2 linked regions of the Homo sapiens genome follow. The protein of the gene in region 2 interacts with the protein of the main gene of each other region in a pairwise test. Each region holds a gene or a part of one and is shown on either strand. Other genes may lie near its edges.

Region 1 (7,873 bases), on a different chromosome or scaffold from region 2:
TCTTGGCTCACAGCAACCTCCACCTCCCGAGTTCAAGCCATTCTCCTGTCTCAGCCTCTGGAGTAGCTGGGATTACAGGCATGCGCCACCACGCCCGGCTAATTTTGTATTTTTAGTACAGATGGGGTTTCTCCATGTTGGTCAGGCTGGTCTCGAACTCCGGACCTCAGGTGATCCGCTTGCCTTGGCCTCCCAAAGTGCTGGGATTACAGGCATGAGCCACCATGCCTGGCCAGGCAGCTGAGATTTTTATTGAGATTGCATCATAGATCAGTTTGGAGAGTAGCATGTGTACTTTTATAGTTAATGTAAGAGGGAGACAAAACTCATAGTCATGAATTATAAGTTAATGTTAATTTTTCTGATTTCACTGATCTTACTGATAAAGATTGCTTTTTCTCATAACATTTTCCCCCTTAGGTAAAAGTATTTATTACATTCATATGTAGGTTCAAAAAAGATTAACTTATAATTTAGTAGTAACTTTTTAAAAGCAACAGTAATAATGTGCAAATGTTTTTAGATACAACATACAAGTTGTTGGATTTAAAATAACCCAAAGGTGTCTAGACATACACCTTTTTGAGGTGAGCACATGTGTATTTTCTGGCGAAACATCACATGGGGATTATACATTTATCATCATCTTTTTTTTGTTTGTTTCTTGAGATAGATAGTCTTGCTCTACCACCCAGTTCATTGTAGTGGCATAATCATAGATCACTGTAACCTTGAACTCCTGGACTTAAGTGATCCTCCTGTCTCAGTGTCCTAGGTACAGGTGCGTGCAACCACACCTGGTTTAATTTTTAAATATTTTGCAGAGATGGGGTCTCATTATGTTGCCTAGGCTGGTCTTGAACTCCTGGGCTCAGGTGATCCTTCTACCTCAGCATCCCAAAGTGTTGGGATTACAGGCGTGAGCCATTGCACTTGGTCTAGCTTCTATCCAAGATAGACTCCTATAGTGGTATATAGATATGACTGGTTTCCTTTTTAAAAAATTAAGCAGTATCATGTCTTTACCTTCCGGCTACCTCCTTGGGTTAGCCTTGCCACATGGTCATTCTTCTGTTTGGTTGGTTTTATAAATCTTAAAAATTCTCATTCAAAAGTAGCTATAATAAGCCAAGAATATGTAATTTCATGCATTTATTCTGAGTGTGGAATTTATATATATATATATATATATATATATATATATATATATATATATATTTTTTTTTTTTTTTTTTTTTTTTTTTTTAAGAAGCTGTTAATGTTGCTAAGGTGTCTGACCAATCTTCCAAGTTGATTAGCCTGCCATGTGCCAGGTGCAGTTTATGTGCTATGCAAGTATTAGGGCAGCATTTGAACTAAAGCCTTCCTCATTTTTCAGAACTTCATTCTTTAACTAATAGTGTGGACTCTTGAGAGGAGCATGGAGGGCGATTCATGGAGTAGGGTGTGAACAGCACGGAAGTTCACAATCTCAGGCTGTATCTCTGGAAGCAGAAGATATTGTCTCACCCAACTGTTAATAAAGTTCGTGAGGTTTTCTCAGTATTATTCAAACTCGGTTGAGTTGCTTCTGCTTTGTTCTTAAGTCCTTCTTTTTCCTTTTCTTTTCTTTCTTTTTTTGAGACCAGGTCTCCCTCTGTCACCCAGGCTGGAGTACAGTGGTATGATATTGGCTTACTGCAACCTCCACCTCCTGGGCTCAAGCGATCCTCCCACTGCAGCCTCCTGAGTAGCTGGGACTACAGGCACATGCCACCATTCCCAGCTAATTTTTGTATTTTTTGTAGAGAGGGGGTTGCCCCCGCTTATCTTAAACTCTTTGAGTTTAAGCAGTCCACCTGCCTTGGCCTTCCAAAGTGCTAGGATTACAGGCATGAGCCACTGTGCTCGGCCCCCTTTTTTTTTTTTTTTCTGTTTCTCAGGCTGGAGTGCAATGGCATGATCACAGCTCACTGCAGCCTCAATCTCCTCTGGCTCAGGTGATCCTCCCACCTTAACTGCTTGAGTGGCTGGGACCTTAGGCATACGCCACTACACCTGGCTAATTTTTGTATTTTTTGTAGAGATGGGGTCTCACTTTGTTGCCCAGGCTGGTCTGGAACTCCTGACCTCAAGCGATCCACCTGCCTTGGTCTCCCAAAGTGCTAGAATTACAAGAATGAGCTACCACGCCTGGCCAAGTCCTTCATTTTTATGACATACTTTAATATGTAACAGAAATCTGTTCTGAAGTCCTAGAAGCATTTTCTTCCTTTTTGGATTCCGTCTTATGACTCTAAATGGTGCAAGGAACTCCTGTATTTTCTTTGCTGTGCTCCAAGTGTCAACCTAAAATAACAACAGAGAGAAGGACTCTTCAAAGAAATGAATCTGTTTGGAAATAAACAGAGAATTACAATTTCAGATGCGCATACCATAGATAATCATCCCCTACATATCTGGAGAAGTTGTAGTAAGGGGAAACTTTTAAAGGGAAAGAGGAGAAGTCCATATAAGCTGTTTTGAGACAAACATCATTGGTCACAGGGGCCTGTTGTAGGAGCTGATGTTACTGGAAACTCATTGCTAAGCGAGTGTTCTTATGAAGATGGCTTATGTGAAACTGCAGTCTTGAGGAATTTTTTTTTTTTCTTTTTTTGGACAGAGTTTCACTCTGTCGCCCAGGCTGGAGTGCCATGGCACGATCTTGGCTCACTGCAAGCTCCGCCTCCCGAGTTCACGCCATTCTCCTGCCTCAGCCTCCTGAGTAGCTGGGACTACAGTCGCCTGCCACCACGCCCAGCTAATTTTTTTGTATTTTTAGTAGAGACAGGGTTTCACCGTGTTAGCCAGGATGGTCTCGATCTCCTGACCTCGTGATCCGCCCACCTTGGCCTCCCAAAGTGCTCAGATTACAGGTGTGAGCCACCGTGCCTGGTTGAGGAATTTTTTGTGATAAGTCCTGTTACAGACATATGTAGGACAAGCAAGATGAGTAGGGCCTACAGGGATTTTTTGTGAGTTTTTAGAAAGCCCTGTGATATAGGCTGGGTGCAGTGGCTCATACCTGTAGTCCAAGCTACTTGGGAGGCTGAGGCAGGAGGATAACTTGAGCCTGGGAGATCTAGGCTGCAGTGAGCTATGATGGTGCCACTGTACTCTAGCCTGGGTGACAGAGTGAGACCCTGTCTCAAAAAAAAAAAAAAAAAAAGTCCTTGTGATAATACTTATCGCAGACATGTGTGCATGAGATCCCCTCCTTCGTGACCTCCCCCTCCATTTTGGGTCTGATGTAAGTGACTCCATCTTGGCATTGGCAACTTTCACACAAGCTGCTTTTCAGACAAAGACTTAAAAACTTTGCCACGTTTCTGAAATAGGATCTTTAGCTCATCCTTAACAAACATCTTTAGCAACTGCAAGGCTGTTATATAATCTGATTCTGTGTTCTTTTGTAAACATGCATGTGACAGCTTTGTGATCTGTCAGGACAGTGGTTATTTGGGAAAAGAAGCAATGAACTCATGAAGGCATCTCAAAACCAGGAAGTAATTCCAGGAATCAAGGAAATTTTCAAGCATCAAAAGTAATGGCTGGCCAGATGTGGTGGCTCACACCTGTAATCCCAGCACTTTGGGAAGCTGAGGCGAGTGGATTGCTTGAGCCCAGGAGTTCGAGATCAGCCTGGGCAACATGGCCAAACCCTGTCTCTACAAAAAATACAAAAATTAGCCAGGCATGGTGGTGCATGCCTGTGGTCCCAGTTACTTAGGATGCTAAGGTGGGAGGATTGCTTGAGCCCGGAGTTTGAGGCTGCAGTGAGCCGTGATTGTGCCACTGCATTCTACCCTGGGTGTCTTGGGGAGAAAAAAAGTAATGGCCAGGCATGGTATAATCCCAGCACTTTGGGAGGCTGAGGTGCCAGGATCACTTCAGCCTAAAAGTTTGAGACTAGCCTGGCAACATAGCGTGACCTCATTTCTATTTAAAGAAAAACAACAACAACGAAAAAAAAAACAAAAACAACGCCTGTGAGAAGGGAAAAAGAAAAAAAATAAACAACAAAAGCCACATAAAAGCAATGAGAATCACACACTAAAGTAACATGAACCCATCTATTGGTTTCAATGGGTTATCAGTACATGGCCGTCGTGTATTTATTCTTGGAGTATTTCCTTGGAGTATTTTGAAGCAATTTCAGATATCATTTTATCACTTATAAATACCTAAGTATGTTTCTTTAAAATATAAGGAAGTTTTAAAAACATAACCACAATGTTTTTAAACATTTTTAATTAAAAATTAAAACTTAAAAGGAAAAAAACAACCTTAAAAATAATTATTTCATATCATTAAATATCTGGTCAGTTCTAACAGTAAAATATTTATTTAGTTAGTTAGCTAGTTGAAGACAGGGTCTTACTGTCACCCAGGCTAGAGAACAGTGGCTTGATTATAGCTCACTGTAACATTGAACTCCTAGGCTCAAACGATCCTCCTGCCTCAGCCTCCTGTGTAGCTAAGGACTATAGCTGTGCCATACCACGCCCAGCTAATTAATTTTTTTTTTTTTTTTTTTTTTTTTTTTTGTAGAGATGAGGTCTTGCTGTTTGCACAGGCTGTTCTCAGACTCCTGGGCTCAAGCAATCCTCCCACCTTGGCTTCCCAAAACGCTGGGATTTTTACAGGCATGAGTCTGTGCGCCTAGCCATAACAATAAAATTTGAAGACTGAATACAATTTTTTCAATGAATAGTCTTTAATCTACTTAAAGATTCCATTGTTATAGGACATTTAGGTAGTTTACAATTTTGTGTGATTGTAAATAATGCTGCGATGAAGAACTTCATGTCTATAACTTTTTCTCTAGTTGAATCATTTCCTTAGGATTTCTAGAAGTTGAATAACAGTACAAAAAGTCACATAATGTTTTATTAAGTCTCCAATTGTGTGTGTGATGTATTACGGAGTTCTTTGTTTATGCCCGAAGACCTTAACAGCCTCTTAGTAGTTTTAACATAGTGGTGGTTCATGGTCTTCTGCTCAGGGAATGCATTGCTGACTGTTTATTATACCTCATCCTGCATGGAATTCTTTGGTCATGGGTATCCTCATACCTAAAGTGGGAAAGATTATATAGTCTTCGAGATAGAGATGAGTATAGGAAAACTGGATTCTGTGTTTTCACTGTTTTTAAAGGGTAAAGTAGAAATTAATAGAACACGTTGAGGTGATCATTTAAATTTAGCATTAAGCTTGAATCTTTTTTTAAAAATTACTTTTTTTTTTTTTTTTAAATAGATGGGGTTTGACTATATTCCTGAGGCTGGTCTGTAACTCCTGAGCTCAAGTGATCCTCCCTCCTAGGCTGGATGCAGTAGCTCATGCCTGTAATCCCAGCACTTTGGGAGGCTGAGGCGGGTGGATATGAGGTCAGGAGTTCGAGACCAGCCTGGCCAAGATGGTGAAATCCCATCTCTACTAAAAGTACAAAAATTATAGCATGCCTGTAATCCCAGCTACTTGGGAGGCTGAGGCAGGAGAATCGCTTGAATCTGGGGGGTGGAGGTTGCAGTGAGCCAAGATCTTGCTACTGCACTCCAGCCTGGGTGACAGAGCAAGACTCCATCTTAAAAAAAAAAAAAAAAGTGATCCTCCCTTCTCAGCCTCCCAAAGTGCTGGGATTACAGGCATGAGCCTGTGCGCCTGCCTAGCTTGAATCTTGTTTGGATTATTAAACTGAGGATTCTGGGTGTGGATAAGAGTCTGAATAGGTTATTTAAAACTACAGTGAGCAATATATGAGGAGTTTGTTGTTGGTATCATTTGGGATGCAGAGTGATGGTGTAATACAAAGAACTGGACTTCAGAGTCAGATCTGGGTTCATGTCATGACCCAGCCATGATAATACTAACAACAGTCATAATACAAATAATTACCATTTATTGAGCATACTATATGCCAGACACTATGCTAAACCTTTTATATATGTCATCTTATTTAATTTTGACAGTAATCCTCAAAGATACGTTTATGATCTTCATTTTCCTGATGGAGAAACTGAAGTTAGGGAAGGTTAAATACAAAGCCTATGGCAGAGCTAGGTCTGTCTCTATAGTCTTTTTAAATAATTTTTTTGTTTTCTTATACTTTCTGAGACAGAGTCTCACTCTGTTGCCCAGGCTGGAGTGCAGTGGTACAACCATGACTCACTGCAGCCTTGACCTCCTGGGCTCAAGCAATCCTCTCACCTCAGCCTCCTGAGTAGCTTGGACTACAGATGTGTGCCATGAGGCCTAGATAATTTTTTTTTTTTTTTTTTTTTTGAGATGAAGTCTTACTCTTGTCCCCCAGGCTGGAGTGCGATGGCACGATCTTGGCTCACTGCAACCTCCGCCTCCTGGGTTCAAGCGATTCTCCTGCGTCAGCCCCCCGAGTAGCTGGGATTACAGGCGCCTGCCACCATGCCCGGTTAATTTTTGTATTTTTAGTAGAGATGGGGTTTCACCATTTTGGCCAGGCTGGTCTAGAACTCCTGACCTCAGGTGACCCACCCGCCTCGGCCTCCCAAAGTGCTAGGATTACAGGCTTGAGCCACTGTGCCTGGCAATGCCTGGCTAATTATTTTATTTTATTTTTGTAGAAACAGGGTCTCACTATGTTGTCCAGGCTGGTCTCAAACTCCTGACCTCAAATGATTCTCCCACCTTGGGCTCCCAAAGTGCTGGGATTACAGGCATGAGCCACTGTGCCTGGCCTGCATTAGTGATTAACATCTTCTCAAAGTTTTCAAGTTTAGGCATTAAGTCAGGGCATTTCAGCTCTTCTACTAATTCATCTTTTTTTCACTCAACTTGGTTTTTTTCAGAGTTTGAATTCTTATACAAATGGAGCGTATGGTCCAACATACCCCCCAGGCCCTGGGGCAAATACTGCCTCATACTCAGGGGCTTATTATGCACCTGGTTATACTCAGACCAGTTACTCCACAGAAGTTCCAAGTACTTACCGTTCATCTGGCAACAGCCCAACTCCAGTCTCTCGTTGGATCTATCCCCAGCAGGACTGTCAGACTGAAGCACCCCCTCTTAGGGGGCAGGTTCCAGGATATCCGCCTTCACAGGTGAGTTGTTTTCTATTGGGAAAAAAATGAATTCAAAGTCTCTGCCTCTTGTAAACAGTGGAAGAGCATCTGTTCATACTAGTGCTGATTTAATAAGACACTTCTAGATTGGGAAGGCTTTTATATTGATGCCTTTCTTATTTGTGGCAGCTATTGCAGTAAATGGACTTTGGCTGAAGGTCATAATCATAAATTTTTATACTGAAAGTAATCTTTAGAGAGTTGCTGCTTGAAAGTTTCCCTATCTTAGCCTTTTTTTTTTTTTTGTGGCGTGATCTTGGCTCACTGCAACCTCTACCTCCTGGGTTCAAGCAATTCTTCTGCCTCAGCCTCCCAAGTAGCTGGGATTACAAGCACGCGCCATCACGCCCAGCTCATTTTTGTATTTTTAGTAGAGATGGGGTTTCACCATGTTGGCCAGGATGGTCTTGATCTCCTGACCTCGTGATCTGCCCCCCTCGGCCTCCCAAAGTGCTGGGATTACAGGCATGAGCCACCGTGCCAGGCAAATCTTAGCCTTTTTTAGCACCCTGTTAGGTTCTTTTTTTTTTTTTTTTTTTTGAGACGGAGTCTCGCTCTGTCGCCCAGGCTGGAGTGCAGTGGCACGGTCTAGGCTCACTGCAAGCTCCACCTCCTGGGTTCATGCCATTCTCCGGCCTCAGCCTCCCGAGTAGCTGGGACTACAAGCGCCCGCCACCGCGCCCAGCTAATTTTTTTTGTATTTTTAGTAGAGATGGGGTTTCACCTTGTTAGCCAGGATGGTCTCGATC
Region 2 (7,873 bases):
GGGAGGCCGAGGCGGGTGGATCACCAGAGGTCAGGAGTTCGAAACCAGCCTGGCCAATATAACAAAACCTCGTCTCTACTAAAAATACAAGAAAATCAGCTAGACGTGGTGGCGGGTGCCTGTAATCCCAGCTACTCGGGAGGCGGAGGCAGGGAGAGTTGCTGGAACCCGGGAGGTGGGGGTTGCAGTGAGCCGAGATTGCGCCATTGCACTCCAGCCTGGGCGACAGAGAGAGACTCGGTATAAAAAAAAATTAAAAATTAAGAGTCATAGGTGGTAGATTGCTTTTTTATGGTATGTGCACTGAGGGAGGCTCTTGAGATTACAATGGAGAAGTCAGTTTTAGATTAGTTTCTGCCAGTTCCTAGGTTCTGTTGAACAGCCTAAGAGTGATATACAGTTAGTATTCTACAGTTGATCAACAACATAACAGATATTTGAATATTTTATTATTGAAAGGAACCTTAAAGAAAGCCAGATCATTTTATGGGCTTAGAATATGTTGATATTGCATATTAATAGAAAATGTAATAAGTAGTACTTTTCAAAAAATCTTAAAGCCAAATTTCTGGCTATAAAACAGATACAAGTTCAGTTTTGCTTTTAATTTTTATTTTCATCCTCATAAATTAAGCAGTTTTGTAGCAGAATAATTCAGAAGCAGTAATTGTTAGTTTCTATGCCTAGCCAATATCTACCCTAATTTCACAATAATGGTTTTAGGATTAAATTTTGTGAGATTTTTCCATAATGCTAAACATGTGTTTATTTTTAGTCATACATTTTTAAAGTTCAGGCTCTTAATTAAATATTGACAGTGTAATTTGGTGGAGTATACACATTTTGGCAAACAGTTGGCATTAACTGTATTTGCCAATATTAAATTTAGTAACAGATCAGGCACTTGGCCAGCAGGTGAGGAAAGTTTGGTCATGTAAAAAACTGAATACAGGAGGAGAAAGAAAACCAGATTCGTTAAGCACCCACAATATCAGATCCATTAATTTTTTTATCTCCATAATTCCTCAGTGAAGTTGGTAAGTATTCCTGCTCTACAGGTGGGGAGTCTGAGGTCTAGGTATTTTAGGTAAATTGGCTTGGATTACATGTATGTCTAATAAATCCAGATGGATATTACCACACAGCTTATCTATACTATTTCTAGTAAACTGCATCCTGTGATAAACTTGTAGAGAATCTTACTGTTGTTTTTCTTTATACTCTTCCCTGGTTCCCATAAATCCAAGGATTTAAAGCCTCAAAAAAAACATGCCTTTCGGCCAGGCACGGTGGCTCACGCGTGTAATCCCAGCACTTTGGGAGGCTGAGGCAAGCGGATCACTTGAGGTCAGGAGTTTGAGACCAGACTGTCCAACATGGTGAAACCCCATCTCTACTAAAAAAAAAAAAATAAAAATAAAAAAATAAAGGCCAGGCACGGTGGCTCATGCCTTAATCCCAGCACTTTGAGAGACCAAGGCGGGCAGATCACCTGAGGTCAGGAGTTCGGGACCAGCCTGGCCAACATGGCCAAACCCTGTTTCTACAAAAATACAAAAAAAAATTAGCTGAGCTTGATGGTGGGTGCCTGTAATCCCAGCTACTGGGGAGGCTGAGGCAAGAGAATCACTTGAACCTAGGAGGTGGAGGTTGCAGTGAGCTGAGATCTCGCCATTGCACTCCAGCCTGGATGACAGAACGAGACTCTGTCTCAAAAAAAAAAAAAAAATGCTTTTATGGCTTTATGTTATACTGCCCAAAATGGTGGCCCCAGGTGGCTAATTAAAAGTAAATTAATTAAAATTAGATATAATTAAAAATTGAGTTCCTTAGTAACACTAGCCACATATAAAGTGCTGAGCCCACCATGGCTACCATTTTGGACAGTGCACTTTGTATATTTTCATATTGTGAGACTGGCGTGCCACCTACTGCACTAACAAGGCACCTCTTAGAGTATTTCTGTCTTCCCAGAGAGTTGTTGAAAACAACACTGATTCTAAAGGTCAGAGGAGGAGAAGGAGGAAACTCCATTTATTGAGCTTAGTATCGCTAATTTTCAAACAGCCCTATGAGATTGCCCAAAGCCACATATCTAGTAGGTGGCAACACTAAAAATTAAATCCAGATTTTCATAGCTTCAATCCTTCCCATTGTATTACAACATAGTCTATTCAGTTTCACATGTTTACAGAATCATAAGTTTTGAAGACTCAAACAGCTAGTATAATTTTTAACAATTTTATTTAATATTACTGCAATGGAACTTTACCAAAACAGTGCTTTTATTTTTTTGGAATGGCAAAAAATTATACACTTGACTTTTTGATAGTTTATTTTGCGTTGTTGAACCTTGCAATACTGCTGCTCCCTTATTCCAGGTGGAGTATTCTTTGACATATACCAAAGCTATATTTTTTCCAACTTACCTTTTAAATTCCACTGAAAGAAAAAAGTCACGTAAGAAGAACCCCATGAGATGCCTAATATTTAGGAGGTTGGGGAAAAGAACACATGTACCTTGAAGTGTTTTTCCTCCATTTTAAACTTTATCTTCAATTTGTTCACTTTTATTTAACACTTTAGTTTGCAGAATTGGAAACTCTGTGTTTGCAGAGTTGCATCATAAAAACTGGACCCAATCTTACCTATTTCTTCATGGATGTCCTAAAGTTGCCACTGCCCACCTCTCATCCCAGCTTCTTGCTTTGAAGCCAACTGGCTTTGTTGTTTGGGCTAATGCCCATATGCATCTATTACCTACCAGTAAGATAAAAGGATTAGCTAGGTTTTCTGATGATTTTTTATATTCTGCTCAAATTTCTACTAGTTATTTCTATTATAACTACTTAGTTGGCTCTGAATTCAACATCATCCCGTTGTTTTTAATCTTTGAGGGAATCGTATTTGTGTTAAATCCTAAAGCATATTATAAAAGGATAGCTTGAAACCAGAAGCTGTTATTCAGGGTGGAAGAAAGGAGTAGATTTAATAACATCTGGAATTAGCCATTCAAGTTCTTTTAATTGTTTTTTCAACACTCTGACATAGACCACTCCTTTCCCTGTGCACCCAAGACAGACATGACTGTATAACTCCTGTATTCTTTTGGAGCCTATATCCAGTCTCAGGATCTTTAATAATAGGATTTCAGCTCCATTTTTAAATACTGAGGAAGACTTCCCTGGATTTCATTACAGTAAAAGCTTAAGAGATGAGAAATGGAGTTAACTGAGTCTTCAAAACAGATGTGTTCCTATCCTCATGGAGTTAATAGTCTATTAAGGAAGAGAGGCAGTAAACAAGGATTTCAGTATGTAATTATAATCTGTAATATGCTATAAAAGAAATTAATAGAATGGGAATAGAGGGTAACAAAGGACTTTATTTAGATTAAGTGGCTAAGCAAGGTTACCTTTTTTATGTTAGATTCTCGAGAAAAAGGGCTCGACATTTAAGCAAAAACCTAACAGAGCCAGCCATACAAAGATTGGGTATGAGAATGTTCTGAAGTGAGATTGTTACTATGCTTTCTATACCGAGCAAAGCCATCTAGCAGTAGATCTAGAACTGATCATACTAGAAACCTCTTTAACACTGTTGATTTTCAGATTTTACTTCAGCCTTTATCTGATTAGTATTAACACAATATTTCATTTTCCATCCCTTTTAGTCAATCTGTGTTGTTTTATTTTTCTCACATTAATGACATATAGCTGGATTTTTTCATTTAATATTAGCACTATGTCCTTTAATAGCTTAATTAGTGTATATGTTTTGTGATTACGGGTATATTTAGGTTTATTTCTATCATCTTATTTTGTGATTTCTCTTCACCTTACTTTTCTTTGCCTCTTTTCCCACTATTTTTCCTTCTCTGATTGATTTTTTTATTTCTTCCATTTTCTCTCCTCTACTGATTTGGATGTATTCTATTTCTATCCTTTTAGTGATTTCCTTAAGTTTTTGCTATAGATGACTATCCTATGCTTCTGAACAATATAAGAATTTTAGCCAAACATCATTTTAGTGTCAATTTGAAAAAGCTGCCTCTTTAAGATACTTTACTGACATTTGACAGATTATTTCTTAATAAATAAGCAAAACTGCCATGACTACAAATATGGATAGTATCCCCTGCGTTGTACATAGTCATATGTTGAGGCCCTGGTTAGAAAGCTTTAACTCTGATTCCTCCCCCATCCTGTTTTCCACAGTATCACTATTAGACTTTAGCTTCACTTTGTTTTTTCAAACTCCACCCCAAAATTGATGAAATTATTATCTTTTTAATATAGTCCTTGTTTAAATTTACTAACATGGTTATCATTTTTTTAATTCACTGTTGTTTCTTGCATCTCATTTCTTTGGGGTTCACTTTTTATTTTAGTGAGGTGTGTCCTATAGTTTTTCACTGGCAGGAAAAAATTTTTTATTTTTCCTCACTCAGGAATAATAGTTTGGGTTTAGAATATAAAATTGTAGATTGGGCCAGGCGCAGTGGCTCATGCCTATAATCCTACCATTTTTGGGAGACCAAGGTGGGAGGACTGCTTGAGCCCAGCAGTTCAAGACTAGCCTGGGCAATATGGCGAGACTCTGTCTCTTACAAAAATATAAAAAATTAGCTAGGCATAGTGACATGCACCTGTGGCCCCAGCTACTCAAGAGTCTGAGGTATTAAGATCGCTTGAGCCCAGAAGATCAATGAGCCTTGATAACACCACTGCACTCAACCTGGGTGACAGAGCAAGACCCTGTCTCAAAAAAAAATGTAAATTGACCTTATTATACCTCAACTCTTGAGTAGCGTTATGCCACTGTCTTCCACTTGTTGGTGAGGAGTCGGCTTGTAGTTTCTCTTTACTTTTATTAATCTTTTTCTTCCTTTTGGTTGTAGTTGAGATCTTTTTGTCTTTGGGGTTTTGCTATTTTACTAGGATTTGTCCAGGTATGGATTTGATTTTATTTACCATGTACCAAACTCTACTCAAGTCTGTGGATATATTGTCCTTTTTTTTTTTTTTTTTTTTTTCCCAGAAAATTTGCTGTTACTTATTGCCTCTTCCATTATCTCTGTTCCTTCCTCTGGAACTGTTAATAGATATACATTAGGTTTTCATTCTATTCTTAATGTCTCTTAATCTTTCCTTTTGTACCATTTCTTAATAATTTTAAGCAAATTTACTTTAGTTCTTTAATCTGCTTCTGTATCTGTTATATGTGCCCACTCCTCCATGATGGTTTGTTTCTTCATGTAGTTTATATTTTTTATTGTGAACTTATTATCTTCAGTAGTTACTTTTTTTAATTTTGGAGTATTTCCTGTAAAATTCCATGAGCCCTAAGTTGTGAAAGAGGTAAAGTGCTTTGGGTATGTTGCAAAATAGGGCCTCACGTAAGTTAAAACAATGATTTTTTAAATTAAGTAATACATGCTCAAAATAGAAAATTCAAAAGGATATACAGTGAAAAATAAGTCTACTTCCCACAACTAGTCCCAGCCACCATGTTCCCTTCCATAGCAGCAAAGCACCAGTCTACGTATTGTTCTAGAGCTATTTTGGGTGCAAGTACAAGCATGTGGATATCTTCCTTTCCCCCCACACTAATTATAGTATACTATGCATACCCTTCACAATATTTTAATATCACAAGAGCCTTTGACATCAGTATAGAGAGCCATCTTATTCTTTTGAATACATGCATAATATTCTATTTTATGAATAAGTCATAATTTAACAGTCCACTGTTAACATTTGTTTTCAGTCTCCTGTTATTGCATGATGCTGCAATAAATATGTACATGTCATTTTACACATGTGTGTAAAATTATGATTATAAAGTAAATTCCTGGAAATAAAATTACCGAGGCTTGGGGTATGGATATTTTTAATTTGGATTCTTGTTTCTAAACTGCCCTTCAGAGAGGTTGGACCAATTTACACTTGATGAAAATGCCTGTTTCTCACTTCTTGCCAAAAACGTGGTATTAAGCTTCTTGGTCTTTGTCACTCTTGAGAGGTTAAAATGGTATCTCAATATTTGTTTAAATTTACATTTCTCATTTACTTAATGAGGTTGGACTTCTTTTTAAAAAGTTGAGTCATTTATGATGCCTTTTCTACAAATTGTTTATTCATATATCCTTTGCCACAGTTTTTCTCTTTTTTTTTTTTTGAGACAGAGTTTCACTCTTGTTGCCCAGGCTGGAGTGCAATGATGCAATCTCGGCTCACTGCAACCTCTGCCTGCTGGGTTCAAGCGATTCTCCTGCCTCAGCCTCCCGAGTAGCTGGGATTGCAGGCATGCGCCACGACACCCAGCTAATTTTGTATTTTTAGTAGAGACGGGGTTTCTCCATGTTGGTCAGTCTGGTCTCGAACTCCTGACCTCGGGCAATCCGCCCACCTCAGCCTCCCAAAGTGCTGAGATTACAGGCATGAGCCACTGCGCCCAGCCCTGCTGCAGTTTTTCAATCATCATATTGATCGTACAGATTTTAGGTGTTCTTTATAAAGTAAATCAGCCTTTGCCGCAAATATTTTTTCTAGTTTGTCCTTTTACTTATTTATGGTGTTTTTTTGAACCACACAAAGTTTTGGTTTTATGTATTCAAATTTATCTTTTCTTTTATAGCTGCTAAGTTATGTATTATATTTAAAGACTTTATGCACTTAAAATTGTTTTTAAAAATCTGTAGTTTTTTTAGTACTTCTGTGGTCTCAGTTTTTTAGTTCCATTTGAAATTGATTTTGCTTTAAGATGTGAAATTAGAGTCCAAATTTGGTGGGGTGGTGGGTGTTTGTTTGTTTTTGAGAAGGAATCTTGCTCTGTCACCCAGGCTAGAGTGCAGTGGCGCCATCTCGGCTCACTGCAACCTGCGTATCCCGGGTTCAAGCGATTCTCCTGCCTCAGCCTCTTGAGTAACCGGGATTACAGGCGCCCACCACCGTGCCCGGCTAATTTTTATATTTTTAGTATAAGAGACAGGGTTTCACCATCTTGGCCAGGTTGGTCTCAAACTCCTGACCTCGTGATCTACCCGCCTTGGCCTCCCAAGGGGTTGTGTTTTTTAACAGAAGGTTATCTAGTTGTCCCAACATGTTTCCCCAACAGGGGAATAATCCCTTTTTCCTAATACTTGAAGTATTATCTTTAGTGTTCATTAATTCTTATAGATATTTGAGTTCATACTATTTTTTCACCTTGGAATTTTCATTCTGCATGGGTTGCATAAACTCAGGCCCCACTCCCATAAGTGGCACGGGCCTGGGCTTTTAATTTTTCTGTCTTTTCTTTACCCCAGCCTACCCATGCACCCTGGAGTTAAGGCCATATGCTCAGTTCACAATGTTGCTGAGCGCTTTTGACAGTAGCTCAAATTTCAGAAGCAAGATTGCACTTTCAGTCACTTATAGAATCATACTATTCAAGAGATTATTTAGTTTGGTCTCAACTTCAGGCAGGTAAAATAATTTTCCTAATTTATATTTGAGGGATCTAAGGACTATGGAAATCGAGACTTGTTGATTGTGAGTGGATCCTCTAGAACCCAAGTATCTGTCTTCTTGAGAGGTATTATTTCAGTTTTACCATACTGCATTCTCTCTAAAAGTCTTGGGACTTACTGGACCTAAGCATAAAAAAATTTATTAGTTCAGTTAATCACTTTTACATATTGCCTCATTTGTTGATAGGCTGATTATAATCTTATTTGAAATAAATTACCCAATACTAAGTGTTATTAGTTACTCAATTTATAATCACAAAAGATTATTGTCAAAACAGGCCTGAAAACTGCACTGTTGATAAACTTTAATTAATTAAAGTTCATCTCTGAGAGATATGGTTTTTAAACTGTGAGAATAAT

The links. Proteins that work in one complex are often made in the same cells at the same time.
Region 1: the proteins of PGRMC2 (region 2) and BAG4 interact in binary tests that used the Homo sapiens proteins (3 or more experiments, as listed by UniProt).

What each region holds. Positions count from the first base shown.
Region 1 is NC_000008.11:38,200,664-38,208,536, forward strand, and holds part of BAG4 (BAG family molecular chaperone regulator 4), read left to right. Parts: intron 1-6,848; coding exon 6,849-7,103; intron 7,104-7,873. UniProt on the Homo sapiens protein: Inhibits the chaperone activity of HSP70/HSC70 by promoting substrate release. Prevents constitutive TNFRSF1A signaling. Negative regulator of PRKN translocation to damaged mitochondria.
Region 2 is NC_000004.12:128,277,516-128,285,388, reverse strand, and holds part of PGRMC2 (membrane-associated progesterone receptor component 2), read left to right. Parts: intron 1-7,873. UniProt on the Homo sapiens protein: Required for the maintenance of uterine histoarchitecture and normal female reproductive lifespan. May serve as a universal non-classical progesterone receptor in the uterus.